Linked DNA regions of Homo sapiens: regions 2 and 3 are each reported to be linked to region 1. Evidence: microRNA targets listed by miRTarBase, many of them from high-throughput screens and not tested one by one. Region 1 holds a microRNA gene; each other region holds the end of a gene's coding sequence.

Evidence for each region. The annotated mature microRNA hsa-miR-520f-3p reads AAGUGCUUCCUUUUAGAGGGUU and lies in region 1 at 6,261-6,282, shown strand. An mRNA with a match to its seed (bases 2 to 7 or 8) in the 3' UTR can be bound and repressed. Matches are read on the target gene's strand: a 7mer-m8 pairs with bases 2 to 8, a 7mer-A1 pairs with bases 2 to 7 and ends in A, and an 8mer does both.
Region 2: the mRNA of PAPLN is a reported target of hsa-miR-520f-3p. The part of its 3' UTR that is shown has no 7-base or 8-base seed match.
Region 3: miRTarBase lists IGDCC3 as a target of hsa-miR-520f-3p. Seed matches in the 3' UTR shown: 7mer-m8 at 5,011-5,017 and 7mer-m8 at 4,974-4,980.

What each region holds. Positions count from the first base shown.
Region 1 is chr19:53,701,247-53,711,900 of GRCh38, forward strand. MIR520C (microRNA 520c) reads left to right here and starts at 6,207; the gene lies at 6,207-6,293. MIR526A1 (microRNA 526a-1) reads left to right here and starts at 5,006; the gene lies at 5,006-5,090. MIR518C (microRNA 518c) reads left to right here and starts at 7,489; the gene lies at 7,489-7,589. LOC107985346 (a long non-coding RNA gene) reads left to right here. Exons shown (of 5, transcript XR_001753998.1): 2 at 2,852-2,982; 3 at 3,524-3,599; 4 at 5,839-5,961; 5 at 7,023-7,063. It also overlaps MIR520B, MIR518B and MIR524.
Region 2 is chr14:73,270,272-73,280,925 of GRCh38, reverse strand. It overlaps PAPLN (papilin, proteoglycan like sulfated glycoprotein), which reads right to left. Exons shown (of 27, transcript NM_001365906.3): 27 at 6,303-8,431. The coding sequence ends at 8,262. NUMB (NUMB endocytic adaptor protein) reads left to right here. Exons shown (of 13, transcript NM_001005743.2): 12 at 1,502-1,645; 13 at 3,633-5,710. The coding sequence ends at 4,348. Among named protein-coding and RNA genes, the nearest start is that of PAPLN-AS1, 30 kb to the right of the region's middle. RefSeq lists an enhancer at 3,898-4,398.
Region 3 is chr15:65,323,281-65,332,354 of GRCh38, forward strand. It overlaps IGDCC3 (immunoglobulin superfamily DCC subclass member 3), which reads right to left. Exons shown (of 14, transcript NM_004884.4): 7 at 8,661-8,826; 8 at 8,132-8,379; 9 at 7,770-7,934; 10 at 7,270-7,461; 11 at 7,013-7,117; 12 at 6,446-6,584; 13 at 6,110-6,317; 14 at 3,847-5,868. The coding sequence ends at 5,629. Among named protein-coding and RNA genes, the nearest start is that of RNU5B-1, 23 kb to the left of the region's middle. RefSeq lists an enhancer at 2,555-3,098.

The DNA of each region.
Region 1 (10,654 bases):
TCTGTTGTCTGAAAGAAAAGAAAGTGCTTCCTTTTAGAGGGTTACCGTTTAAGAAAAGCAACGTTTAGGTGGATGCTGATCTTGGCAATAATACATTTGCAGAGCATGCTTATCATCAGAGTTGGATGATGGTGGGGTTCTGTTTTTTTGTTTTTTTTTTTCTGAGACAGAGTGTCTATTGCCCAGGCTGGAGTGCAGTGGCACTTTTAACCTAGATCTCTTGGGCTCAAGTGGTCCTGTTTTTTGGGATAATCTCACACTGTGACCCAGTCCGGAGTACAGTGGCATGAACACCACTCATTGCATGCTTTGCCTCCCAGGTTCAAGTCATTCTTATGACCCAGCTTCCAGAGCAGCTGGGATTACAGGCATGAGCCACCACACTGGCTAATTTTTGTATTTTTAATAGAGATGGGGTTCACCATGTTGGCCAGGCTGGTCTCCAACTACTGACCTCATGATCCACCCACGTCGGCCTTCCAAAGTGCTGGGATTACAGACGTGAGCCACTGTGCCCGGCCAACACAGAGAATACTCTTATATCACTTTGGGGTTGTTTCTGTTTGTGTATTTTTTAAATATTTTTTGAGACACAGTCTGGCGCTATTACCTAGGTTGGAGTGCAGTGTTGTGACCTCGGCTCACAGCAACCTCTACCTCCCAGCTGAGCCTCCTGAGTTAGCATCTGCAGGCATGAACCACAACACCTGGTAACCTTTGTATTTTTGGACACATGAGGTTTCACCATGTTGCCCAGGCTAGTCTTGAACTCCTGAGCTCAAGTAATCCTCCTGCCTCCGACTCCTAAAGTGCTGGGATTACAGGTGTGAGCCACTGCACCCCACCTGTACTTGTGTATTTCTGTTCAAATTTTATTGAGGAGCTTTTACGGCCTAGACAGTAGTCTATCCTGGAGAATGTTTGTGTGTATGACAATGTATATTCTTTTTTTTTATTTTTATTTTTTGGAGACGGAGTCTCACTCTGTCACCCAGGCTGGAGTGCAATGGCATGATCTCGGTTCACTGAAACCTCCGCCTCCTGGGTTCCAGCGATCCTCCTGTCTCAGCCTGCTGAGTAGCTAGGATTACAGGTGGGCGCCTGGCTAATTTAGATTCCATTTTGGATGCTCCCATCGGGACTGTGTGTCCCTATGTTGGAACTCAGGTGAACGCTTGGCTCAAAAATCCATTGCTGTTCTCTAGAAATCCTGCCTAATTCTCTTGGTTAAAGATAAGGTATATGTAGCAGGCATTGCTTTTTCTCTTTGGGGACAAAACTCAGGAGGATTGCGCCTTGATGAACAAGGCTAACCTGCTGAGCCTTTGAAGCAAGGAACTGGAGATGGTCCTTTTAGGGGTTTATGTTCTGGATTCCAGAAAACATGCAAACAGGGCAAATAAATGCATCTTTATTTTGTGTCCATTTTAACCTGGTCAAGGAAAATTCCAACAGCAACATCAAAAAACCAGTGTTGGAGCAAGAATATGTCATGCTGTGGCCCTCCAGAGGGAAGCGCTTTCTGTTGTCTGAAAGAAAACAAAGCGCTCCCCTTTAGAGGTTTACGGTTTGAGTAAAGCAGCGTTGAAGTTGATGCTGATCTTGGTAATACATTTGCAGAGCGTGCTTATCATCAGACGTGGACGATGGTGGGGTTCTGTTTTGGTTTTGTTTTTTTCTAAGACAGGGTCTCCGTTGCCCAGACTGGAGTGCGGTGGCACTTCTACCTAGATCTCTTGGGCTCAGATGGTCTTCTTTTTATTTCATTTTTTTAATTGTTTGAGATGGAGTCTCACTCTGTCACCCAGGCTGGAGTACAGTGGCAGGATCTCCACAACTACAGCCTCCCAGGTTCCAGACATTCTCCCACCTCAGCCTCCCGAGTAGCTGGAATTATAAGCACCCACCGCCATGCCCTGCTTTTTGTATTTTTAGACAAGAAAGGGTTTCACCATATTGGCCAGGCTCATCTCAACTCTTGCCCTTAAGTAATCCTCCTCCCTGGCCTCCCAAAGTGCTGAGATTACAGGCGTGAGCCACCGCGCCCAGCCTCAAGTGGTCCTCTTGAGTCAGCCTCTCAAGTAGTTGGGACTACGTGGGGCGTGCCACCATACTTGGCTAAGTTTTTAATTTTTGGTACAATTGGGGTCTCTTTTTCCCAGGATAGTCTCATCTCCACAGCTTATGTGGTCCTACACGTGTGAGCCACCTCGTCTTGATGACCCATTTCAAAGAGAGTTGACATGGCCAGGCATTGTGGGGCACACAGTCCCAGCCACTGCAGAGGCCAGGGTCGGAGGGACCTTTGATTTCCAGACTGTACCATGCACTGATCACACCTTCGAATAGCCACTGCGCTCCAGCCTGGGCCAACATAGCAAGATCCCATCTCTTTAAAAACAGATTACATGGCACCTGGTTACAGAGGCTCCATTTGGGTTGGTTATTTGAAATGGGTCTCCCATCAATTTAGTGTAATCAATCGAAATCATTTCCTTCATTAAGAGAGTAAGTAGCCGGGGCATGGTGCCTCATGCCTGTAATCCCAGCACTGTGGGAGGCAAAGGCAGGCGGATCGCCTGAGGTCAGGAGTTCAAGACCAGCCTGGCCAATATGGTGAAACCCTATCACTACTAAAAATACAAAAATTAGCCGGGTGTGGTGGCGTGAACCTAGGAGGCTGAGGTTGCAGTGAGCTGAGATTGCACCATTGCACTCCAACCTGGGCGACTGAGCTGGACTTAAAAAAAAGGTAAGTAAGCCTTCAAGTCTATCCAATCTTAATTTGTAATCTCAAATGGATGTCCATATTAACAAAATTTTCTTGTTTTTCCTGTTTGTGTCTTTTTAGTTTAATCTTCTTGTCCTTGACACTGAAATTTTTTTCTCTCCAACAACTTGCCGTCGTTTCTCGGAATAGAGCTGCTTTCTCTGCAGGAAGGGTGTAGTTGATTCAACCGCCACCCACTCACGCCAGCCCCGGTGAGTTCTTTGACTGCAGCTTCCCTGATTATGCTATTTTCTTCGGGTAATGAACCCAAGGTACCTCGCATTTAAAGGCTAGTTGCTTGGTAAGCTGTGAAATGTTGGCTGTGGCTAATATGAGAAACAAACTATGGTAGACAAGATGAGTCTCAGTGGCAGTGATAATTGTCACATGGGACAAAACCACAGATACTTTTCACAAAAACCTTGAGGACCCTAGAAGGGCCTCTCTAGTAACAGGTGGGATGCGCCGCAGCTCTCGTTGTTGCCGTAGTGAGCGATGCCTGTTCGTCCAGCCCTCAACACCTTTTACTCCGTGGAAGTTATGCCTGCACTGGTTTACAGAACCTCCCTTGACTTGGGTTGAGGTAGAGCTGAAGGGAACCTCAGTGTCCCTTGCAGGTGGGATGTTCACTACGTAGCAAGAGCACAAAGGTGGAGTGCGTGGGCTTTGAGTTTCTATTGGGTAAATGAAGCTGAAATGTAGGGCACATGAGCACGTCATCAATGTACAATTGATTTAATTTTTGTATTTTAGAAACGGAGGTCTCGCTATGCCGCCCAGGGTAGAATGTGCTCTCTCCCTCTCCTCTTCCTAGTATCTGGGACTACAGGTGAATATTTTAATCTATGCACAGGCAAGAAGAGGGCAAGGAGGGTTCTTTTGTTCTGTCTTTGACTTTGTGAGGCAGTGTCACTCTGTCACTCAAGCTGGAGTGCAATAATGTGATCTCGGCTCACTGCAACCTCTGCCTCCTGGGTTCAAGCAATTTTTTTTTTTTTTTTTTTTTGAGTCAGTATCTCACTCTGTCCCTCAGGGTGGAGTGCAGCGGCCCAGTCTCTGCTCCTGCAACTTCTGACTCCCAAGTAGGTACAATTGCAGACACGTGTCACCACGCTTGGCAAAATTTTTTTTGTATTTTTAGAGCTGGGATTTTACCTTGTTGGCGAGGCTGGTCTGGAACTCCTGACCTCAGGTGACTCGCCCACCTTGGCCTCCCAACAAGTTATGCTGATCTTGGTAATAACTTCGCAGAGCGTGCTTCCATCAGACATGGAGGATGGTGGGGTCCTGTTTTGTTGTTGTTGTTTTTCTAAGATAGGGTCTCTTGCCCAGGCTGGAGTGTGTTGGCACTTCCAACCTAGGTGTCTTGGGCTCAAATGGTCCTCTTTTTTCGGACAGTCTTGCTCTGTGACCCATGCTGGAGTGTAGTGACGTGATCTCAGCTCACTGCAACCTCCACCTCCCAGTTTTAGGCAGTTCTCCTGCCTCACATTCCTGAGTAGCTGGGATTATAGGTGCCTGACACCATGCCTGGCTAATATTTGCATGTTATTTATTCATGTATTTATTTGTTTTGAGATGGAGTCTCACTGTCACTCAGGCCAGAGGGCAGTGGCAGGACCTCGGCTCACTCAAACCTTTGCCTCTCAGGTTCAAGCAAGTCTTCTGCCTCAACCTCCTGAGTAGCTGGAATCACAGGCACCCGTCACCACGCCCGGTTACTTTTGTATTTTTTTTTTCACCATGTTGGCCAGGCTGGTCTGAAACCCCTGACTTCATGTGAGCCGCCCGCCTCAGCCACCCAAAGTGGTGGGATTACAGGCATAAGCCACTGCGCCCGGCCAACAATGTATATTTTTCAACATGGGAGATTCAGTTTTGAATGCTCCCATCGGGACTGTGTGTCCCTGTGCTGGAACTCAAGTGAACGCTTGGCTCAAAATCCATTGCTGTTCTCTAGAAATCCAGCCCAATTCTCTTGGTTAAATGTAAGGTATGTGTAGTAGGCAATGCTTTTTCTGGAGACAGAACTCAGGAGGATTGTCCCTCGATGATCTAGGCTAACCTGCTGAGACTTTGAAGCAAGGAACTGGAGATGGTCCTTTTAGGGTTTTATGTTCTGGATTCCAGAAAACATGCAAACAGGGCCAATAAATGCATCCTCATTTTTGTGTCCATTTTAACCTGGTGAAGGAAAATTCCAACAAAAAACCCACAGTGCTGGAGCAAGAAGAGCTCAGGCTGTGACCCTCTAGAGGGAAGCACTTTCTGTTGCTTGAAAGAAGAGAAAGCGCTTCCTTTTAGAGGATTACTCTTTGAGAAAAACAACATTGAAGTTAATGCTGATCTTGGAGATCATGCTTATAATCAGACTTGGATGATGTTGGGGTTTTGTGGGGTTTTTTTGGTTTTTTTTCCTAAGACAGGGTGTCTGTTGCCCAGGCTGGAGTATGGTGGCCCCTCCAACCTAGATCTCTTGGGTTCAAGTGGCCCTCTTTTTTGGGACAGAGTCTTGCTCTGTGACCCTGGCTGGAGCTCAGTATCAGGAACTTTGCTCACTGCAACCTCTGCCTCCCAGGTTCAAATGATTCTCCTGCCTCAGCCTCCCGAGCAGCTGGGATTACAGGCATATGCCACCACGCCCAGCTAATTTTTGTATTATTGTTATGTATTTATTTTTTAACTTATTCATTTTAGAGACAGAGTCTCACTCTGTCGCCCAGGCTGGAGTGCAGTGGTGCGATCTCGGCTCACTGCAACCTCCAACTCCCAGCTCAGCCTCCTGAATAGCTGTCTGCAGGCATACACCACCACACCTGGCTAACTTTTGGTTTTTTTGTACAGATGTGGTTTCCCCATGTTGCCCAGGTTGGTCTCGAACTCCTTAGCTCAGGTGATCTTCCACCTTGGCCTCCTAAAGTGCTAGGATTAGTGGTGTGAGCTGTTGTGCCCCACCTATACTCGTCTGTTTCTGCTCAGATTTTATTGAGGAGCGTTTACAGGGTAGCCTGTTGTCTACCCTGCAGGATGTTTGTGCCTACAACAGTGTATATTCTTCAACATCTTAGATTCCATTTCGGATGCCCCCATGAGGACTGTGCGCTCCTGTACTGGAACTCAAGCGACCACTTGGCTCAAAATCCATTGCTATTCTCTAGAAATCCAGCCCAATTCTCTTGGTTAAAGATAAGGTATGTGTAGTAGGCATTGCCTTTTCTCTTTGGGAACAAAACTCAGGAGGATTGCCCGTTGATGAACAAGGCTAACCTGCTGATTCTTTGAAGCAAAGAACTGCAGATGGTCCTTTTAGGGATTTATGCTCTGGATTCCAGAAAACATGCAAACAGGGCAAATAAATGCATCTTTATTTTTGCGTCCATTTTAACCTGGTCAAGGAAGATTCCCACAAAAAATCCACAGTGCCAGAGCAAGAAGATCTCAGGCTGTCGTCCTCTAGAGGGAAGCACTTTCTGTTGTCTGAAAGAAAAGAAAGTGCTTCCTTTTAGAGGGTTACCGTTTGAGAAAAGCAACATTGAAGTTGATGCTGATCTTGGTAATACATTTTCAGAGCATGCTTATCATCAGAGATGGATGATGGTGGGCTTCTGTTTTTGTTTTGATTTTTTCTTTTTTTTTTTTTTGAGATGGAGTTTCGTTCTTGCTGCCCAAGCACTAGTATGTAGGAATTATTCTTTATGTGAGCATATAGTACATGGAACTTTGTTTTTTTGAGACAGGGTCTCCAAAATATATACATGTTATCATATAATCTTCTATGTATAATTATATTCACACAAAATAGTCTTCTGCACACAGAGAATACTCTTATATCACTTTGGGGTTGTTTTTGTTTGTGTATTTTTTTTTTTTTTAATTTTTTTTGAGACACCATCTGGCTCTATTGCCCAGGCTGGAGTGCAGTGTTGTGACCTCAACTCACTGCAGCCTCTACCTCCCACCTCAGCCTCCTGAATTAGTGTCTACAGGCATGAACCACTACACCTGGCTATCTTTTGTATTTTTACAGATGAGGTTTTACTATGTTGGGCAGGCTAGTTTTGAACTCGAGCTCATGTAATTTTCCCGCCTTCGACTCCTAAAGTGCTGGGATTAGAGGTGTAAGCCACTGCACTCCACCCGTACTTCTGTACAAATGTTATTGAGGAGCTTTTACGGCCTAGGCAGTGCTCTATCCTGGAGAATGTTTGTGTGTAAGACAATGCATATTCTTTTTTTCTTTCCTGTCACCCAGGCTGGAGTGCATTGGCACGATCTCGTCTCACTGCAACCTCCGCCTCCCGGGTTCAAGCAATTCTCCTGCCTCAGCCTCCTGAGTAGCTGGGATTACAGGTGGGCACCACCACGCCTGGCAAATTTAGATTCCATTTTGGATGCTCCCATCATGACTGTGTGTCCCTGTGCTGGAACTCAAGTGACCATGTGACTCAATCCATTGCTGTTCTCTAGAAATCCACCTCAATTCTCTTGGTTAAAGGTAAGGTATGTGTAGTGGGCATTGCTTTTTCTCCTTGGAGACAAAACTTAGGAGGATTCCCCTTGATGAACAAGGCTAATCTGCTGAGCCTGGAGATTGTCCTTTTAGAGGTTTATGTTCTGGATTCCAGAAAACGGTCAAACAGCGAATAAATGCATCTTTATATTTGTGTCCATCTTAACCTGGTCAAGGAAAATTTCAACAAAAATCCCAGATGGCTGGAGCGAGAAGATCTCATGCTGTGACTCTCTGGAGGGAAGCACTTTCTGTTGTCTGAAAGAAAACAAAGCGCTTCTCTTTAGAGTGTTACGGTTTGAGAAAAGCAACGTTGAAGTTGATGCTGATCTTGGTAATACATTCGCAGAGCATGCTTATCAGGCTTGGATGACGGCAGGGTTCTGTTTTGGTTTTATTTTTTTCCAAGACCAGTCTCTGTTGCCCAGGCTGGAGAGGGAGGGGTTGCACTCCAAACTAGATCTCTTGGGGTCATGTCTTGCTCTATTATTATTATTAATTCTTATTTTTGTGTGTGTGTGAGACGGAGTCTCGCTCTGTCACCAGGTTGGAGTCCAGTGGCGGAATCTCAGCTCACTGCAACCTCCGACTCCGTGGTTCAAGCGATTCTCCTGCCTCAGCCTCCTGAGTAGCTGGGATTACAGGCACGCACCGCCATGCCGAGCTAATTTTTGTATTTTTAGTAGAGACCGGGTTTCACCACGTTGGCCAGGATGGTCTCAAACTCCTGACCTCATGATCCACCCGCCTCGGCCTCCCAAAGTGCTGGGATTACAGGTGTGAGCCTCCGTGCCCAGCCTGTTATTTTATTTTGTTTTATTTTATTTATTTTATTTTATTTTGAGATGGAGACTGGCTCTGTCGCCCAGGCTGGAATGCAGTGGCAGGATCTCCACTCACTGTAACTCCCACCTCTGTCGCCCAGGCTGGAGTGCAGTGGCAGGATCTCCACTCACCGTGGAGTTCCAGTGATTCTTTCACCTTAGCCTCGCAAATAGCTGGTATTACAAGCACCCACCAACACACCCTGCCAATTTTTGTATTTTTAGACAAGAAAGGGTTTCGCCATGTTGGCCAGGCTGGTCTCGACTCCTGACCTTAAGTGATCCACCTCCCTGGCCTCCCAAAGTGCTGGGATTACAGGCGTGAGCCACCACGTCCAGCCTCAAGTGGTCTTCTTGTCAGCCTCGCAAGTAGTTGGGCTCAGGTTTTAATTTTTGGTAGAGATGGGGTCTCTTTTGCCTGGGATGGTCTCAGCTGAGCTTAAGTGATCCTAAATGTGTGAGCCACCTTGTCCCATTTCAAAGATAGGTGACACGGCCAGGCATCCTGGGACACACAGGGTCCCAGTTACTGCAAAGGCTAGGGTGGGAGGGTCCTTTGATTTTAAGGCTATACCATGCACTGATCACACCTTTGAATAGCCACTGCACTCCGGCCTGGGCCACATAGCAAGATCCCATCTCTTTAAAAACGCAGATTACATGCCATCTGGTTCCTGAGGCTCCATTTGGGTTGGTCACTTCAAATACAGGCCTTTCATCAGTTTAGTTTAATCAATCCAAACCATGTTTCCTTCATTAGGAGAGTAAGGGCCAGGTGTGTAATCCAAGCACTTTGGGAGACTGAAGCAGGCGGATCAGGAGGTCAGGAGTTCGAGACCAGCCTGACCAATATGGTGAAACCCCGTCTCTACTAAAAATACAAAGATTAAGTGGGCGTGGTGGTGCGTGCTTGTAATCCCAGCTACTCAGGAGGCTGAGGCAGCAGAATCTCTTCAACCCAGGAGGCGGAGGTTGCAGTGAGCCAAGATCGCGCAGGTGCACTCCAGCCTGGGCGACAGAGCGAGGCTCCATCTCAAAACAAAACAAAACAAAAAATATAGGCCTCCACATCTATCCAGTCTATTCTGTAATCCCAATGGATGTCAATATTAATACAATGTTCTTATTTTTTCTATTTATTTGTATCTTTTTAGTTGAATCTCCTTGTCCCTGACACTAAATTTTTTTTATTTTTATTTATTTATTTTTTTTGAAACAGTCTTGCTCTGTCGCCCAGGCTGCAGTACAGTGGCGCAATCTCGGCTTACTGTAGCCTCTGTCTCCCGGGTTCCAGTGATTCTCCTTCCCCAACTCCCGGGTAACTGGGATTTTCAGGCACACACCACCACCCCAGCTAATTTTTTTGTACGTTTAGTAGAGACAGGGTTTCACCATATTGGGCAGGCTGGCCTTGAACTCCTGAACTAAGGTGATCCGCCCACCTCGGCCTCCCAAAGTGCTGGGATTAGGGATAAGGCTAACCTGCTTATTCTTTGTAGCAAGGAACTGGAGATGGTCATTTTAGGGGTTTATGTTCTGGATTCCAGAAAACATGCAAACAGGGCCAATAAATGCATCCTCATTTTTGTGTCCATTTTAACCTGGGCAAGGAAAATTCCAACAAAAAACCCAGAGTTCTGGAGCAAGAAGATCTCATGCTGTGACCCTACAAAGGGAAGCACTTTCTCTTGTCCAAAGGAAAAGAAGGCGCTTCCCTTTGGAGTGTTACGGTTTGAGAAAAGCAGCGTTGAAGTTGATGCTTATCTCGGTAATACATTTGTAGAGCATGCTTATCATGAGGCTTGGACGATGGCGGGGTTCTGTTTTGGTTTTGCTTTTTTATTCTAAGACAGGATCTCTGTTGCCCAGGCTGGAGTGCGGTGGCACATCCAACCTAGGTCTTTTGGATTCAAATGGTTTTTTTAGCGGACAGAGTCTCTCTATCACCCAGGCTGAAGTGCAGTGGTGTGATCTCGGCTCACTGCAACCTCCACCTCCCAGGTTCAAGCGAGTCTCCTGCCTCAGCTTCCCAAGTAGGTGAGATTACAGGTGCCCATCACCACACCTGGATAATATTTTCATTTTTTAAAATTCATTTATTTATGTTTTTGAGATGGAGTCTCACTGTTACCCAGGCTGGAGGGCCGAGGCGTGATCTCTGCTCAGTGCAACCTCTGCCTCCCGGATTCAAGCAATTCTTCTACCTCAGCCTCCTGAGTAGCTAGAATTACGGGAGCCCACCACCACACCTGGCTACTTTTTGTTTTTTGTTTTTTGTTTTTTTTTTAGTAGAGATGGGATTTCACCATGTTTGCCAGGCTGGTCTCAAACCCCTGACCTCAAGTTAGCCACCGGCCTCTGCCTCCCAAAGTGCTGGGATTACAGGCATGAGCCACCACGCCTGGCCTAATTTTTATATTTTCAGCAGAGGCGGGGTTTCACCATGTTGGCCAGGCTGGTTGCGAACTCCTGACCTCAGGTGATCTGCCCACCTCAGCCTCCCAAAGTGCTAAGATTACAGGCGTGAGCCACCACACATGGCCATTAACA
Region 2 (10,654 bases), not on the chromosome of region 1:
GGTCAGGAGTTCGAGACCAGCCTAGCCAACATGGTGAAACCTCGTCTCTACTAAAAATACAAAAGTTAGCCGGGCATGGTGGCAGGCACCTATAATCTCAGCTACTCGGGAGGCTGAGGCAGGAGAATTGCTTGAACCTGGGAGCCGGAGGTTGCAGTGAGCCGAGATCACACCATTGCACTCCAGCCTGGGTGACAAGAGCGAGACCCCATCTCAAAAAAAAAAAAAAAAAAAAAAAATAGTACCAACACCATAGGCATGGCTGTCCAGTCCTAAAAAGGATATAATTATATTGTAGGTCAGGGGAGGGTGCTTGTCTACACCAAACTGAATGTTATTGAGAGCTGGGCTAAGGAGAAGAAACTAATATAGGTATCTGGAGTAAAAGGAACAAGGGTTAGCAGATTTTAACAAGGGGAGATGAGGAAAGAATAGTAGGTATGTTGTGATATTGTAAACATCATAGAGGGGGAAAAAAATCTTTGTTAAAAAATGTTCTGTGAGTTACCAGGAGAGTTAAAAAAAAAAAACCTTCAAAAAAAGTTGAAATTAATTGTGTAGCAAATTAGAAATCTATCAAGCAAATGAAAACATACCAACTTCGATTTCTCATCTGTAATAGGGGGATAATACCAGACTCGTAGGGTTTTTGAGATAATTAAATGAAATGATGCATGTAAAATATTAGCTTAATGACTAGCACATAATAACGAATCATATATACATTTTAACTTTTGAGGAGGAAACAAAGAGTAATTTTTTTTTGTTTGAGATGGAGTCTTACTCTGTTGCCCAGGCTGGAGTGCAGTGGTGTGATCTAGGCTCATTGCAACCTCCGCCTCCCGGGTTCAAGTGATTCTCCTGCCTCAGCCTCCCTAGTAGCTAGGTTTACAAGTGCACACTGCCACACCCAGCTAATTTTTGTATTTTTAGTAGAGACGGGGTTTCGCCACGTTGGCCAGGCTGGTCTCGAACTCCTGACCTCAGGTGATCCACCCACCTCGGCCTCCCAAAGTGCTGGGATTACAGGCGTGAGCCACCACACCTGGCCTATTTTTAACCAGTATTATTGTTAACATAATCTGACCTTTTGGAAAAGTGAAGAAGAGGGAAATGCTATACCTACTTCATTATGCCGAAGGCTAAGCTATATCTAGAATAGTTAGATATTTTTTGCTGCTCCTAAGACGCAGCAGCTCTGTTCACCTTAATTTGAAATTGTTTTCGTAGGTTTCATTTCCCCACTCCCCATGCACATATTTTCCTAGAACAGTTATTTGACTTTATCTATACAACCATTTAAAAATTACAATCTCTGATTGCTTCTTTGCCTAATGGTATGTACATCCAATGCAAGATATCATGGTTTTCCCAAACATCAACTCTTCTCTCTTATCCATTCCACCAGTATTGTACATTCACCTGACTGACACAGCTCCAAGGGGTCACTTGTACACCCTGCATGAATTAACTCCATTGATGTTGTCTGCTCCCGTTGTAGCTAATGGCACTGACTCAGCCTTCCATGTGCTTGCTAAGCCAGCCCATACTGCTCTAGCACCCGTAGCAATGCCTGTGCGTGAAACCAACCCTTGGGCCCATGCCCCTGATGCTGCTAACAAGGAAATTGCAGCCACATGTTCGGGTAAGGTGGCCACAGATGGTGTTGAGGATTCTGGGATCAGATAAGTGACCCTGGTTCTAAAACTCAGCCAGTTAGCTGAGTGGGAACTAGGGAGGAATCCTTTCAGGAAAACTATGTTCCCTCCTAGAAATAAGTTGCTTACATAAGAAAGGATGGTGAAGGAGAACAAAAGAGATCAGACTGATAGTCATTAGGACTGTGGAACAGGACTGTGGAACAGAGCCCCACCCATAGAGCTTTTATAAAATACAGATTCCGGCTGGGTGTGTTGGCACATGCCTGTAATCCCAGCACTTTGGGAGGCTGAGGTGGGTGGATCACGAGGTCAGGAGATGGAGACCATCCTGGCCAACATGGTGAAACCATCTCTACTAAAAATACAAAAATTAGCCAGGCGCGGTGGCATGCGCATATAGTCCCAGCTACTCAGGAGGCCGAGGCAGGAGAATCGCTTGAACCTGGGAGACAGAGTTTGCCGTGAGCCAAGATTGCGCCACTGCACTCCAGCCTGGGCAACAGAGCAATACTCTGTCTCAAAAAAAAAAAAAAAAAAAAAAAAGATTCCAGGGCCCCACCTCAGAGAATCCATCACCGGATTTGGTGATGTGCAGACATTCCTGTAGAAAGAGGGGGCCCTGCTCCTACAATAGGAGGCCTACAAAAAGTGCTAGAAAAAGCACTTCATTTTTGCTTTTTTGTACTTTCTAGTTTTGTATAAAAAACATCTATTAATTATAAAACCAAAAAGTTTTTTTTTTTTGGAGGTGGAGTATTGTTCTGTCACCCAGGCTGGAATGCAGTGGCATGATCTTGGCTCACTGCAACCTCCATCTCTCAGGTTCAAGCAACTCTCCTGCCTCAGCCTCCCGAGTAGCTGGGACTACAGGTGCATGCCACCATGCCCAACCAATTTTTGTATTTTTAGTAGAAATGGGGTGTCACCATGTTGGCCAGGCTGTTTTCGAACTCCTGACCTCGTGATCCACCCGCCTTGGCCTCCAAAAGTGCCGGGATTACAGGTGTGAGCCACCACACCCGGCCTCAAAAGGTTTTAACATAGTAATAAAGGCAGTTCACCAAAAAGACAACATATTTCTGGAAGCCAGGCAGAGGCCAGCAAGATATGGCCAGGTCACTGGTTATTTTCTTTTTGCTCTGTTAGAGCAGAAGATGAATTGCCTTGGGCCCTTTAGAGGATGTGCAAGCTAGGTGTTTTTTTTTTTTTTTTTTTTTTTGAGACGGAGTCTCGCTGTGTCACTAGGCTGGAGTATCTTGGTTCACTGCACCCTCTGCCTCTCAGGTTCAAGCAACTCTCTTGCCTCAGCCTCCCGAGTAGCTGGGACTACAGATGCATACCACCACGCCCAGCTAATTTTTGTATTTTTAGTAGAGACGGGGTTTCACCATGTTGGCCAGGATAGTCTCGATCTCTTGACCTCAGGTGATCTGCCCACCTCGGCCTCCCAAAGTGCTGGGATTACAGGCATAAGCCACTGCACGTGGCCTTTTTTTTTTTTTAAGACAGAATTCTCACTGTGTTGCCCAGGCCAGAGTGCAGTGGCACAGTCATAGCTCACTGCAGCCTCCAGCTCTTGGGCTCAAGTAGTCCTCCTGCCTCAGCCTCACAAGTAGCTGGGATTACAGGTGTGAGCTACCACAACCAGCTAGTTTCTGTATTGTGGATGAGCCATAGCAACAGCGAGGGGTTTCTGACATCAGTCAGCTGCCGTGGTTTAATGCATTTGAGCCATATCTAGACAGTGCTTCAGTGTGGCTGACACAGCAGCATGGTCTTGACAAGTTTTCTTCATCCTACCACAAAATCCCAGTTGGTAATAGAGACTTTACTCCTACCTATCAAAACCACAAAATGTCCCATTAGGGGGGGACATGTTGTACATGTTAGGATCATTCAAATAACCAAGATTATAAGGTGAGGAAAGATGCCCCTAACTGATTCTTTTGTCTCTCATCTTGTTGGTTCCAGGGACCGAGTGGGGTCAATCTTCTGGTGCTGCCTCTCCAGGTCTCTTCCAGGCCGGTCATAGACGTACTCCCTCTGAGGCCGACCGATGGTTAGAAGAGGTGTCTAAGAGCGTCCGGGCTCAGCAGCCCCAGGCCTCAGCTGCTCCTCTGCAGCCAGTTCTCCAGCCTCCTCCACCCACTGCCATCTCCCAGCCAGCATCACCTTTCCAAGGGAATGCATTCCTCACCTCTCAGCCTGTGCCAGTGGGTGTGGTCCCAGCCCTGCAACCAGCCTTTGTCCCTGCCCAGTCCTATCCTGTGGCCAATGGAATGCCCTATCCAGCCCCTAATGTGCCTGTGGTGGGCATCACTCCCTCCCAGATGGTGGCCAACGTATTTGGCACTGCAGGCCACCCTCAGGCTGCCCATCCCCATCAGTCACCCAGCCTGGTCAGGCAGCAGACATTCCCTCACTACGAGGCAAGCAGTGCTACCACCAGTCCCTTCTTTAAGCCTCCTGCTCAGCACCTCAACGGTTCTGCAGCTTTCAATGGTGTAGATGATGGCAGGTTGGCCTCAGCAGACAGGCATACAGAGGTTCCTACAGGCACCTGCCCAGTGGATCCTTTTGAAGCCCAGTGGGCTGCATTAGAAAATAAGTCCAAGCAGCGTACTAATCCCTCCCCTACCAACCCTTTCTCCAGTGACTTACAGAAGACGTTTGAAATTGAACTTTAAGCAATCATTATGGCTATGTATCTTGTCCATACCAGACAGGGAGCAGGGGGTAGCGGTCAAAGGAGCAAAACAGACTTTGTCTCCTGATTAGTACTCTTTTCACTAATCCCAAAGGTCCCAAGGAACAAGTCCAGGCCCAGAGTACTGTGAGGGGTGATTTTGAAAGACATGGGAAAAAGCATTCCTAGAGAAAAGCTGCCTTGCAATTAGGCTAAAGAAGTCAAGGAAATGTTGCTTTCTGTACTCCCTCTTCCCTTACCCCCTTACAAATCTCTGGCAACAGAGAGGCAAAGTATCTGAACAAGAATCTATATTCCAAGCACATTTACTGAAATGTAAAACACAACAGGAAGCAAAGCAATCTCCCTTTGTTTTTCAGGCCATTCACCTGCCTCCTGTCAGTAGTGGCCTGTATTAGAGATCAAGAAGAGTGGTTTGTGCTCAGGCTGGGGAACAGAGAGGCACGCTATGCTGCCAGAATTCCCAGGAGGGCATATCAGCAACTGCCCAGCAGAGCTATATTTTGGGGGAGAAGTTGAGCTTCCATTTTGAGTAACAGAATAAATATTATATATATCAAAAGCCAAAATCTTTATTTTTATGCATTTAGAATATTTTAAATAGTTCTCAGATATTAAGAAGTTGTATGAGTTGTAAGTAATCTTGCCAAAGGTAAAGGGGCTAGTTGTAAGAAATTGTACATAAGATTGATTTATCATTGATGCCTACTGAAATAAAAAGAGGAAAGGCTGGAAGCTGCAGACAGGATCCCTAGCTTGTTTTCTGTCAGTCATTCATTGTAAGTAGCACATTGCAACAACAATCATGCTTATGACCAATACAGTCACTAGGTTGTAGTTTTTTTTAAATAAAGGAAAAGCAGTATTGTCCTGGTTTTAAACCTATGATGGAATTCTAATGTCATTATTTTAATGGAATCAATCGAAATATGCTCTATAGAGAATATATCTTTTATATATTGCTGCAGTTTCCTTATGTTAATCCTTTAACACTAAGGTAACATGACATAATCATACCATAGAAGGGAACACAGGTTACCATATTGGTTTGTAATATGGGTCTTGGTGGGTTTTGTTTTATCCTTTAAATTTTGTTCCCATGAGTTTTGTGGGGATGGGGATTCTGGTTTTATTAGCTTTGTGTGTGTCCTCTTCCCCCAAACCCCCTTTTGGTGAGAACATCCCCTTGACAGTTGCAGCCTCTTGACCTCGGATAACAATAAGAGAGCTCATCTCATTTTTACTTTTGAACGTTGGCCTTACAATCAAATGTAAGTTATATATATTTGTACTGATGAAAATTTATAATCTGCTTTAACAAAAATAAATGTTCATGGTAGAAGCTTTTGCCCATGAAGGGCTGTTCTTTCCCCTTTCCTTTATTAGTAAATGAATTTATTTTTCGTTCTTTTGGTCTTACTCTCCATTCTACTGCTGCTGTAAATCCCTAGTTTAGTGACTAGAAAAATACCCTTAAGATTCATATTTTCATTCATACTTTAATCCTGAGTGTATCTCTAAAGTCAGATTCTTGCTGCTCAAAGTGTGGTCTGTAACAGCAGCATGGACTTCACCTAGGAGCTGGTTAGAAATGCAGAATCTCAGCGGGGTGGGGCAGTGCTTCTCAACCTGGGCTATGCAATAGAATCACCTGAGGATATCTTTTTAAAATCCTAACGCCTGGCCTATATTCCAGACCAATTAAATCAAAATTTTAGTGGGGCAGGGGGACCCCCCAGGTTGTGTTTTTTTTTTTTAAGCTCGCAATATGGTAAAGTTGAGAACCACTGGCCTAGAATGAGTTTTACCTCTAATCTTAGCCCACTATTCTGTGACTGGTTCTATTAGAACTAGTTAGCTGCTAGCTAACCTCAAACTTACCTTCTGATGTGTTTATACCAATAGGCCAAAATCTGGTTTAATTAAACTGGGGATTTCAAAAAAGTGGCCTTTATTTTCCAATTTCTATAGCAAAACCAGCCATAAGTGAACATGGATGCTCTTCAATATTTTTCCAGTATTAAATGAAAAAAGACCTCTGCCCCAGCCCACATTTCCTTTGTTGAATGAGTAGAGAAGACTGAGAAGTATCACTCACCCGTGATGTGGTTTGTCCCTTTTCCAGCCAGTGTGTTGGTAATAAAAGTCACCTTTCAGAGCTTTGGTCCCTGTAATGCCCGTCTTTCCTGTGTCCAGGAATAACCTTTGCTACTAGGCAGTCCTCTGAAAGATTTGTAGAAGGTTAAAGTGGAAAGGGACTTGGAAGCTCATAGAATCCATGCCTCTTCTTTTAGCATCAAGGAATTAGAAGTCCTGAGAGATGAAGAATGTTGTCTTCCAACTCAAACCATTTCTGAAGCCATTTCCCTGTTACTGCATTGCCCACAACCCTTCCCCATTGCTATCCTCATCCTGCTAATGCTGTTTTTAATGACTGACAGTCTGATTTGTCTTTGGCAGCAAACATTTTGCTTCACAGATTCCTACTTAAGGAAGAGAGGGGCTCCTCATTGTCACTGTACAGAGCAGGCTGGTCAGCTTTACACAGGTGTCAGATGAACCGTCACAGCCAGATTTGCATGTTGGCCTCAGGAGGGCTTCAAGGTCCAACATCTCGACGTAAGGAGCGTTTCCAGTTCTTTCATGCTCAGATAACAGTGCTAACTGCAGCTGTTTCATCCCAAATCCCTATTTGAGGTCTTAACATCTATTCCATTTTGCCAACAAGGGTTATGCTGTTAACCCTCTGCACCAGATTTAGAGCTGACTGATGCACTGCCTAGAAGGGTGAGAGAGACTAGAGCAATGAACCATCGCTGATTTTAGCACAGAATACTTCCCTGATACAGCAGGACTTGGCATGCCCTTTAGAAAACAAACAGGTGTTAACTTTGAAATCATTACACATCTCCCTGCCCAGCTTTAAATTAAGTGGAACCCTGACAGCTAGCTTTAAAACACATTGATGGGCTGGGCACAGTGGCTCACACCTCTAATCCCAGCATTTTGGGAGGCCGAGGCGGGCGGATTACCTGAGGTCGGGAGTTCAAGACCAGTCTGACCAACATGGAGAAACCCCGTCTCTACTAAAAATACAAAATTAGCCAGGCATGGTGGCACATACCTGTAATCCCAGCTACTCAGGAGGCTGAGGCTGGAGAAGCGCTTGAACCCAGGAGGTGGAGGTTGCAGTGAGCCAAGATCGCACCATTGTACTCCAGCCTGGGCAAGAAGTGCGAAACTCTGTCTCAAAAAAAAAATAAAAAAAATGCATTGATGGCTGGGCGTGGTGGCTCATGCCTGTAATCCCAGCACTTTGGGAGGCTGAGGCGGGCAGATCATCTGAGGTCAGAAGTTCGAGACCAGCCTGGCCAACATGGTGAAACCCCATCTCAACTAAAAATACAAAAATTACCCAGGCATGGTGATAGGCATCTGTAATCCTAGCTACTCAGAAGGCTGACACAGGAGAATCAAGAACCCAGGAGACGGAGGTTGCAGTGAGCTGAGATCGCGCCATTGCCCTCCAGCCTGGGCAACAAGAGTGAAACTCTGTCTCAAAAAACAAACAAACAAATGCATTTAACTATTCCTGTGTAACAAATTATAAAGGGAAGCTGTAAAGTAAAGGTTTTTCTTATCCAAACAGATTGCTCTTCTTGAAAACAGCAGCCTGTGGTTATGTCAGAGATGCAAACACTGCTGAAGGCTACAGAGAGAAGCTGGTAACTGGCTGCCGTTGAGGCTAAACACTGGGTGGGTTTTTGAAAGAGCTAATGTATTCCAGAAGATAACTCCCTTTGCCAGCCAGAGAGAGGAAGCCAAGAGTCCATCTTCCTTTCTCCCTAGCCCTATGAACTATTTTGGACTGGGGCTGGAACTAGCCTTCATCCCTACTGCCAGATGGGCTGAGCGTGAGGCTGGAAACGTGAACAGCTGGCACAGCAGAAGCTGGAGTAATACTCATTGCCACAAAGCTGGGCCTGCAGGATCAAATCACAGTTGGCCAGCTCTGGCTGGTCGACGCAGTCCCTGCCAGGGTCCCTGGGCTGGGCGGTGGGTGCTGCAGAACGACAGGGGAGAGAGAAGGTGGTGAGGAAGCTCTGTGTATGCTGAAAATTCTCACCTGCCATTTCATTTCCTTCAAAGGAACACAGCATTATAACTGCCAGATTGAAAACGAAGTGCACTTACCCTGTAACCTTTTAACCATACGTACAAACTCTATGAGGGATGATGATTTCTACCTGTTTCTTGGCCTCACTTCAACATGCAGTGGTCCTCCCATTATTATTTGTGGCCTCAGCCCACTGAATAGCTCTTCCTAGACTCCCAAATATTTATTGACTGGATAATTAAACATCTCTTGAAGTTAACTCCTTATGTTTGAGACCTGAATTACTAAATGACAACTGTTCTTGCCTCTGGATTGGGAGAGCAGGTAGGATCAGCCCCAAGTAAAATTTTGAGTTAGCAAGAGCTCTTATCTTTTCCCTTTCTCTGCTGGGTTCCTCCAACCATCAAAGTTTTGTCCCTTCAATATCACCAGCTTATCTTAGTCACCTGGGTCCTCATCCTTCCAGTTTTTCACTTTCCCCAGAGGAAGCAATGCATATTAGACAAGGTAATAGGAAAACAGTCCTGTTAACGGTGGCTCTAATACTAACTACACTGAGAACAAAGCAAAGCCCTTGTTTTCTCTCCCTCTGAATTTACTAGGAACGTCTGTATCTCATAACTCCCTATTAAGTTTCATTCAGCTGGGTGTGGTGGCTCATGCCTGTAATCCCAGCACTTTGGGAGGCCAAGGCGGGCGGATCACGAGGTCAGGAGTTTGAGACCAGCCTGGCCAATATGGTGAAACCCCATCTCTACTAAAAATGCAAAAATTAGCCAGGCATGGTGGCGTGCCCCTGTAGTCCCAGCTACTCGGGAAGCTGAGGCAGAAGAATCGCTTGAACCCAGGAGGCAGAGGTTACAGTGAGCTGAGACCACACCACTGCACTCCAGCCTGGGTGACAGAGCAAGATTCTGTCTTAAAAAAAAAAAAAAAATTTCATTCTACTGCTTCATCTCTCTTCTGGAAGGGGTTCTTAAAACTCAGCTGACTTAGACCAGAGTGGTACCTTCCCTGAAGTCAGACCTCAAGCAGCCAGAGAAAGCTTATCTTTCTCTCTCCCCTTGTTTACTCACAAAATACCACTAAAAGACTGTACCTAGCAGCGAACAACCTTACAAACGTTTGGTATATTGGTATAACCAGACTATTACCTACCTAAATTTATATAGATAACAAAGCCATTAATGCATATTGTTTCTAAAAATCTGTAACTTTGGTATCAACTCTGAGCTGGTACAGCCCAAGACCCATCATAGTGGGAACTCAGCATAGTGATTAAGCACACCAGCTCTGGACCCATACTGCCCGGGCTCAATCCGGGCTCTGCCACTTGCCAGCTGGGTAACTCTGGGCAAGTTGCTTAAGCCCTTTATGCACATTTCTTCATCTGTGAAATGGGACTAATAACAGCAACAGCAACCTACTTCACAGCGATGTTGAGAAGTCCTCCCAGTAGAGCTATGTCCCTTTTACCTCAGCCTGACCACCCCAAGGCCTCCTACCCTGGTGCTAACACTGAAATTCAATGTGCCACCCAACCATGAGTAGGGCAGGGTCAGGCAGCCGCACACCGTATGACCCAACAAAAAATGAACAGGTGAGAGCAGCCAGCAGAGGACCGGAGGAGAGTGGCCAGACTGAGGCCATGTCTGTCCCATCTGGGACACACATCTCAGGCCATTTCAGCGTGGTGACCAGGTATCAGGCAAGTTTCTCATTGTAGTTTGGTTTTCCATGTAATCCCATCTGGAGCTAATCGCAAACATAATGTCTAGGTCCTCTTGACAGTTCTCTCACTGTGAATCTGCATTTTGCTTTGTCACACAGCCTTGATTTGGTTATTATGTAGACAAGGTCAATTTTCTGGACATGATACAGGTGAAAAGTAGTCCCTGGAGTGTGGTGCTTTCGCCAATGTAACTCCATCATTGTGCAGGCAGGCACTTAGTCACCATGTATCTGAGTGTCGCGGCTTTTGTAGCTGGGTGAGCAGGAGGGAATGGAGGGAAGAACGAGTTTTAACGCTCCCGTTCACCGAGCTGCGAGCGGCGGGAACATTTGTCCCTGTAACACCCCCTTGGGGCTCCGCGGTTGCTGGCATCTCCGAGTTTTCGGGCGCCACCATGTTCCCCTTGTCTATACGTTAGCACCCAGTGCGGAAGCCGC
Region 3 (9,074 bases), not on the chromosome of region 1:
CTGGGCTCACAGCCAGCATCAGCCACCAGACGCGGGAGGGAGGGAGCCTTCAGGGGATCCCAGCCCCCAGGCTTCAAGCTGCCCACGCTGATGCAGAGTGGAGCAGAGACAGCTGCCCCTGAGCCCTGCCCAGACTGCATATTTGTAAGCCAAATAAATGTGATGTGAAACCACCAAGGTTTGACGGCACTCCAGCCTGGGCAACACAGTGAGACCCTGTCTCTTAAAAAAAAAAAAAAAAAAAAAAAAAAAAGGCCGGGCATGGTGGCTCATACCTGTAATCCCAGCACCTTGGGAGGCCGAGGCAGGTGGATCACGAGGTCAGGAGATCGAGACCATCCTGGCTAAAACAGTGAGACCCCGTCTCTACTAAAAATACAAAAAATTATCTGGGCATGGTGGTGCTTATAATCCCAGCTACTCAGAAGGCTGAGGCAGGAGAATCGCTTGAACCTGGGAGGGGGAGGTTGCAGTGAGTGGAGATCACGCCACTGCACTCCAACCTGGGTGACAGGGTGAGACTTGGTCTCAAAAAAAAAAAAAAAAAATTGCCAGGCGTGATGTCTTACGCCTGTAATCCCAGCATTTTGGAAGGCCGAGGCAGGCAGATTATCTGAGCTCAGAAGTTCCAGACCAGCCTGGGCAACATGGCAAAAGCGCATCTCTACTAAAAATACAAAAAATTAGCCTGGTGTGGTGGTGTGGGCCTGTAATCCCAGTTACTCGGGAGGCTGAGGCACAAGAATTGCTTGAACCCGGGAGGCAGAGGTTGCAATGAGCAGAAATCATGCCATTGCACTACAGCCTGGGTGACAGAGAAAGACTCCGTCTCAAAGAAAAAAAAAAGGTTTAGGGTTGTTTGTTACAGAGCCTTAGATGATTGGAACAGGTTGCAGCCTTGGTTGTGGCAGATTTCTGCCCAAAGATAGTTTGTGGGGGACAGTGAGGTTTGACGGGGTTCTTCAGCCTGAGGCCTCTGGGCTATTTGAGATCTCAGGACCTGGATTCCAGTCAGGCCACTCAGCTTTGACACCTATTTCTGCTAACCTTCCTCACTGGAACCCTGCTCTGTCATCTACCCAAGCCTGGCTGAGACTTGTGATGGTTAGGGCAGGCCCTGCCTACATTTGTTTGTGTTTTGTATACAATTTGCATATATCTGCATGATCATATTTTGGTGGATTTTTATTTTTTTTTTTGACAGAGTCTTGCTCTGTTGCCCAGGCTGAAGTGAAGTGTCGTGATCTCGGCTCACTGCAACCTCCACCTCCCAGGTTTAAGCAACTCTCCCACCTCAGCCTCCCGAGTAGCTGGGATTACAGGCAGGCACCACCATGCCTGGGTAATTTTTGTATTTTTTAATAGAGATGGGGTTTCCCCATGTTGGCCAGGCTGGTCTTGAACTCCTGACCTCAGGTGATCACCCGCCTCGGCCTCCCAAAATGCTGGGATTATACGCGTGAGCCACTGCACCCAGCCTTATTTTCGTGGGGTTTTTTGTTGTTGTTGTTTTGTTTTTTTTTGAGACAGAGTCTCGTTCTGTCACCCAGGCTGGAGTGCAGTGGCATGATCTCAGCTCACTGCAGCCTCTGCCTCCCCGATTCAAGCAGTTCTACTGCCTCAGCCTCCCGAGTAGCTGGGATTGCAGGCATGCACTACCACGCCTGGCTAATTTTTGTAGTTTTAGTAGAGACGGGGGTTTCTCCATGTTGGCCAGGCTGGTCTCGAATTCCTGACCTCAGGTGATCTGCCCACCTTGACCTCCCAAGGTGCTGGAATTATAGGCGTGAGCCACTGCGCCTGGCCCATTTTGTGGTTTCTAAACATTTCCAGACACCTCCCATCTGGGACTCTTAGAAGGGACAGGGGCACTGGATGTTACTTGTCTACTCCCCCAACCCCACAGGGTTGACTTGAACAATCACCTCCCCAGGCTGCCCTTGGATGGCTGAAGTTGTTAAAACATCTATGTGTGCAAAGTGCCGTGTAAAGAAAGAGTTTTATATCTATATTTGAGATAGTTCTTTCCTGGGATAATCAGGGAAAGTCAGCAACCTCCCTGGAGATTCAGGATAGGCGCCCTATAGGCCTCAGCGCTCTCTTGCCTGGTTCAGCATCCCTAGCACCGTCACTGGTCCTGACCTGACCTCGGGCCCAGCTATCCACAGGCCTCTTCTGGAAGTGCCTGGCCAGGTACCTTCAGATGTTCTTTTAGGATCACAATCCTGCTTTCAAGTGAAATTTCATCAAGAATCCAACATGGGCTCGGCACAGTGGCTCACGCCTGTAATCCCAGCACTTTGGGAGGCTGAGGGAGGTGGATCACCTGAGGTCAGGAGTTTGAGACCAGCCTGGCCAACAAGGCAAAACCCTGTCTCTACCAAAACTACAAAACATTAGCCAGGTATGGTGGTTGGTGCCTATAATCCCAGCTACTCGGGAGGCTGAGGCAGGAGAATTGCTTGAACTTGGGAGGCGGAGGTTGCAGTTAGCCGAGATCGCACTACTGCACTCCAGGCTGGGCGACAAAGTGAGACTCTGTCTCAAATTAAAAAAAAAAAAAAAAAAAAAAAAAGCCAACATGTAATAAGACAGAAAAAATATGGGAAAAAATATTGAGCTGGTCTGGGTGAGGGTGGGTAGGGAGAGTGAGGAGGCCCTCCAGAGAGCTCCCCCTCACCCCAGCCATAGCCAGGGAGCCCAATTTACCCACTGCTCTCCTGGTACGTTCCTCTCGAAAGGTGCCCCTGGGTTTAGAACCTGGCTTTCCAGGTCTGCTGAGCCTCCTGGGTGTGAACCCAGGCTTTCAAATTCAGCAGTAGCTGCATTATACTGCTGCCTCTTACTAAGCTTGAGGCCAGCTGAGACCTTCGGATCTTTGTCAGCATAACTGCCATTAAGCCCAGCCTCTCTCGAACCTAAGCCATAGCAGCTCCAGGCAACTGGCTTCAGGAGCCTGGACTGAGAGACAATGGCAGAACAGAGAGGCCTGGCCGGAGTCCTGGCTGAGTGCCCTGGAGGGAATCACTCAGTCACAGCCTGTTTCCTCAGCTTCAGAACCGGGAGGAAACCAGTCCTTCCTCATAGACAGTGCGTGAAAAGCACACAGCCCTGCCTGGCCAGCACCTGGAGAGCGCTTAACCTTGGCGGGCTGAGCGAGCAGCCGCCTCGCTGCTGGCCGAGGAGGGGTGGGGCGGTGGTCAGAATGCAGAGCCTGGAACCTGGCAGCCTGGCCTGGATACAGACTCGGATCCTGTGTGAGGATCAGACTGACCAACTGCCTGTGTGGGATTGTGGACATTTCCTTCACCTCTTTTTTCTTGGTTTCATCAACTATAAAATGGAGATGACCAGCCAGGCACGGTGGCTCATGCCTGTAATCTCACCGCTTTGGGAGGCTGAGATGAGCAGATTGCTTGAGATCGGAAGTTAGAGACCAGCCTGGCTAACATAGCGAAACCTTGTCTCTACCAAAAATACAAAAATTAGCTGGGTGTGGTGGCGCACTCCTGTAATCCCAGCTACTCAGGAGGCTGAGGCAGGAGAATTACTTGAACCCAGGAGGCAGAGGTTGTGGTTGAGCTGAGATTGTGCCATTGCACTCCAGCCTTGGCAACAGAGTAAAAAACTGTCTCAAAAAAATAAATAAAATGGAGATGACGGTCACTAGCATATCTTAGTCACAGGGAGGGGTGAGGACTCAGGAACTGCACCTCATGTGGCAGAGAGCTGTAGTGTATAGGGTCTGCTGTTACTATCCCAGGTTCTGGGCCTGTGAGGGCCCTGGCCCACCCAGCACCGCAGCCCCTCCCCCAGGACCTGACACAACCACCCAAAAACTCCAGGTTCACTTTGGCAACAGGACTTTTATTCAGTCAAAATGAGCAGAGTGTGACAAAACCCAAGTAAGGCCAGGTGGCCCCCCAGCCCCCTCCTGCCCCAGCCGCACCCTTCCCAAGGGAGAGGGAGGCTCCCGAGAGAAGCTGCTTTGGGAACAGAGGGGGCACTGCCTTGGAGCTTTGTGGAGCCCTGGGCATCCACACATCATTTGGGAGAAGGGAAGGGACTACCCTTCCCCAAGTCCACGCGGACACAGCTCTAGTTTTCTAGGAAAACACCACAAATTCTATCTTCTTCAGCTAATTAACTAAAGTTCAGGGTGGAGGTGTCCCTAGAGGATTGGGGGTCAGGGATATTTATGGTCTCATTCTTAAGGAATACACTTATCTTTTTTCTTTAAAAAAAGTTTTTCTTCTGCTATTTAAAAAAATGTTTCTGAGTATAACCAAAAATAGGTATTTGTTTCCTTGGTTTTCTTTTCTTCTTCTTTAACTAAGTAGTTCAAAGAACAACACAACAGAAAAGAGTAACAAAAAGTCACAAGAACATAACCCTTAACACACCTTGTATAAAAATAGCTTCCGGCCATGGCTGCTGACAGTGGATGCTCCCCTGTCGAGGGGTGGATCAGGCTGGCTGGGTGCCTGAGGCTGGGGCGCCTCTGCAGGGGACACCCACACCCCCTCACCCTCCCACACACCCATCCCACACATGGTACATTCCAGGGGCCGGGCCTGCAGGACAGGAGGCAGGCGGCCAGCTGATGCCACCCTCCCAAGCCCAGGTTCCTCATGGGCATCCCCATCAAGGATGGGCTGGCTCAAAATGGGAGTGGACAGACAAGACGGGGACAGGCGGTGTGCTGGGAGGTGGCTCGTTTGGACAATTTATACTTCAAGGAACAAATTTCCTCTCATTTTTGGCTGCTTTCACATTTTTTCTCTGCCCAATCCATTTCTATTTCTGTAGGCCACAAGAGTTCCCCTTGGTGGCCCAACCTCTGGCCTCTCCTCTGCAGGAGAGGTAGGTGGGCTGTGGGCAGGAGGGGCGGGGAGGCAGGTCCAGTGACAACACAGCCCACAGAGCCAGCGAGCCTTGAGGTAGACATTTTCTTTCACATCTGGAAATGGGGAAGTGCTTTTTTTTTTCTTTCACACCTGGAAACGGGGAAGTGCTTTTTTTTTTTTTTTTTTTTTTACTCTGGACAACAGTGTGGGAAGGGAGAGGGGGTCCCCAGCAAGGGGACTTGAGGTAGGAGTGCATTCGGGCTCTGTGGGGTAAGGGGGCTGAGGCCACCGCCCCACTGCCCCCCAGGACATTCATTCCGGCTGAGGTAGGTGCTGAGAGCCAAAACAGCAAAAATCCATCCTGAGAAAACAAAGTCGGTGGAGGGTGACAGTGTCAGGGCCCAGCTACAGCAGGGTCATCTTTTGGAGTCTAATTCACCTTCCTCTATCTCTCTCCTCTTTTTTTTTTTTTTTAAGTTTTGCTTTTTAAAGAAAAATGTTAGTTCAGTTCCAAGTCATGTGGGTACCAGGCAGAGGCAAGGGGGCGTCAGCCCAGGGAAGGAACAGGCTCCTGCAGGAACTGCTCCAACTCCTGATGGGTGTTAGGGCCGGGGGGTCCCTGTCAAGGCTGCCTTGGGTTTTGACAACCCAAGAGGCAGTCAGGATAGAAATGCTGGGGAGCCCCCAGGACCATCCAAATCCCACATGACAGTAGAAATCTTGCTTTTGACCTGAGAATGGGCCCCGCTCCGTCCACCCTCTGGAGCCTGCCAGACACTGGCTACTGTTCCGAGTGAGCTGGCTGGGTAACCCGGGCCGCTGCAGGCCTGGAAGCCTGGCCTTCACTGAGGAGGCCAGGGCCTCCATCTGGGGGTGGTGGGGCAGCCGCCAGGCCGGCGCAGGGAGCCGTGGCCTCTGTGGTCTTCGCCTCCGTCGTCTTCCCCTCCATCAGGCCGCACCCCTGAAGTGGCAGCACGGAGAGCTGGGTCTCCTCACACGGAGCGGGGGCTGCAGGATCCTGCTGGGGAAAGAGCCCGTCACACAGGCGTCAGCTTGAGGGCCAGGGCGCCAGGCTCCAACTCACCCCACTTGGGCCTTAGGGTCTCCAGGTCTCCCTGCCTGACTCAGGGACACAAAGAGAAGACCTGCAGTTTGACTAAGGCCAATGATCGAGGCCCGTGGCCAAGGTGAAGGGGGGCAGGATTGGAAGGTGGCAGTGTCAGAGCCTGAGGCGGGGGTTTGTTTAAGACATGGGCACTCACTGTGGGTCTGGGGTCCGGCTGCCCTGCTGCGCTGGCCGGGGGGAACAGCTGCTCCAGCTCCTTCATATCCACACGTTTCTCGTCTCGGCCCAGCTGGCCCCGCTGTCCCCGTCTCGCCCCATTTAGGGCTAGAATGCCAGGGTCCCTCTGGCTCCGGGGACCCTGTGGAGGGGACAGCTGGTTTTCCACATCTTTACACAGGAGGACCCTAAGGGTTAGCCAAGAGTTGGGGGGAGGGAGAGAGAAAAGAGACAGAGGCAGTGAGCCCACACTCACCTTCTCTAGGCCTAGTCCCCCACACACCAGCCCAGCCCCTCTCCCTGGCCCAGGACCCACCTGCCCCTTTGGCCGAACAGGAGGAAGAGGACACAGAAGATGATGCAAGTGACCCCGATGTGGATGCCGATGACGATGCCTGTGGTGGACGTCTGGTTGGCGGCCTCCTCCTTCCGGCAGTCACATGGTGGGCTCAAGGCTGGGGACAGGGACGGGTTGGAGGCTTTGGCTCTCCAGGTCTGAAGCACTCCCAAACACCCAGCCTCTGGGGACTCCTCTTCCTTCAGCTGCTCCCACTCCCAAGTGGGAGTGGGAACATCCTTTGACTTTGCCTACAGGACTCCAGACCAATCTTTTTGGTTCTTTTTACCAGATACTAGGAATAGCATGGACCATTTCATCCTTGCCACAGCTTTGTAAAGTAGGTACTATTATCCCTGTATTATAGAGAAAACTGGGATCAGAGAGGTTAAGTAACTTGACCAAGGTCACACAGCCAGCATGTGCATGGCCAAGCTTCAAACTGTGGTCTAAGCCTGTGTTTTCAAGCGTGGCACATGCTATCTCACCCCATTACTTTCCCGGCTTCCCACCCACTCAGCCCCGCACTCCATCCCCAGCCCTCACCTGTCCTCTCAGATGCTCCCCTCAAAGACACAAAGCGGACTGTGGCATTGCCATCTCCATGCTGGTTGTAGGCGAGCAGCTTCACCTCATACACTGCAGTGGGGTCTGGAGGAAGGCAGGGCGGATGAGCAACTGCCCCTGCCCAACCACGTGCCCTGTCCTAGCCAGGAAAGGGAGGTGACCCCTGTACGCCACCTCCTGGCCCTCAGCGCCGCACTCTGCCAAGCCCCCTAGGCTCTGGGCTGTGTCTGCCTCACCGAGCTGGCTGAGGTTGTAGGAGGAGACGGTTCCAGGCAGCAGGATGGGGCCGGTGAAGGAGGTCTTGCTTGCTGGGCGGTAAAACAGCTTGAAGCCGCCCTCGTGCTGGGCCAGCCGGGGCCAAGGCTCCCACAGCAGCTGCAAGGAGGAGCTGCCCAGGACTCGCACTGACAGTGGGGGTGGGGCAGGGGCTGCAGGTAGAGAAGGAGGCCACGATGTGAGGACCCAGTGGAAGCTCTATCTTTCTACCTTCCACCTGTGACCCCGACCCCCAAAAGCCTGACAGCCCTCTGGCCTCTGGCCAAGGGCATGTGCTTATGAAAGCAGCACCTTCCTAGGAATTAGAAAAAGAAGCCCTTTCCTCCAAGTAGACTCAGCCCTGACAGCCTCAGGGCCGGGCACCCTGCACAGCGCACAACCAGAACAAGTGTGCATGGTGGTTCTGCTCTGATACCCTGAGTGAGTGCCTGTGGTTTTGTGCTCCACACCCAGGCCTCACCTTCACCCAGGGTGCTAGCTAGGGTGGGCACAGAGGCTGAGCTGGCCCCCCTTGGTGTGTAGGCCTTGATGTAGAAACTGTAGGCTGTGGAGGGCTCCAGGTCGCTGACCAGGTGCTGAAAGGTGCTCTTGCTGACTGCCTCCTGATACTCCAGCTCCGGTGGGTCTGGAGAGGCACAGGGTGGGCAGGGGAGTGTGAAGGACTGGGGGAGTCCTGCCAGCATTGGTGAAATGAGGGCAGCCAGGGTGCCCGGGGGGACAGCGGGGAGAAGGAAAGGGAGGCATCGGGTCACGACGTGCAGGATTGGAAGGAATAAGAAATAGTGAATTAGAGGAAGGGGCAACAGAGCTGGCCACGCGCACCAGCAGCCTTCCTGATGTGCAGGACGTAGCCGATGATCTCCTTGGTGTTGGCCAGCGGCTCACTCCAGGACACACGCACCTCAGTGGAAGACACAGAGACTGCCCGCACATTGCGGGGAGGCCCGGGGAGCCCCTCAGCCCACAGTACGGTCAGCCTGGCACTGGCCTGTGATGAGCCCGCACTGTTCTCGGCCACACACTGATAAATGGCTTCATCCTCAGGACCGATTCCAGAAATGGTCAGTGTGCTGCAGGGGAGAGAGACAGCCTCAGGTTCCCTCCTCCCTGGAGGTTGACCAAATCTCCCCATTTGAAAGATGGAGAAACTGAGTCTTTCCAGGAGACAAACGACTTGTGTGAGGTCTCCCAGCAAGTTGGTGGTGGAACTGGGACTCCACCTCAATCTCCAGACTCCCAATTCTGTGCTCTTCCCTGGCAGGAGGTGTACAGCCTACTCAGGCCACTCACTCCAGGCCCCGCTTTCCCTGCTCTCCCCTGGTCCTCACCCCAGCACACACCACACACATACCTGTTGTTATTCTTGAGCCTGACGTGGCCTCCTGGCCCCAGCACCTGTCCATTTTTCAGCCACGTGACATGAGGCGGTGGCTCACCCTGGGCTTGGCAGGTGAACATGGCTGTGGTCCCAGCTGGCCTGGAGATGGACTGGGGATGCTGCACAAACTCAGCTGGGGCTGCGAGTAGAGTCAGGAGGGTGGGGGCGCAGACAGACACAGCTGTGAGTGACGGCATGAGGAAGGGAACAGGGGATGGGACTGGAGATACACAGGGTGAGAGGTGGGCTCCAAACACACATCTGCCCCCTGGAGACTCCTCCAGGTGGGGCCCAGCCTCTACTCCTGCCCAGCTCAGGAGATGGCCCACCTCCCTCTTCCCTCCTCCCCAGGCAGACCTGAGAGGACTCCTTTTTAATGACTATTTA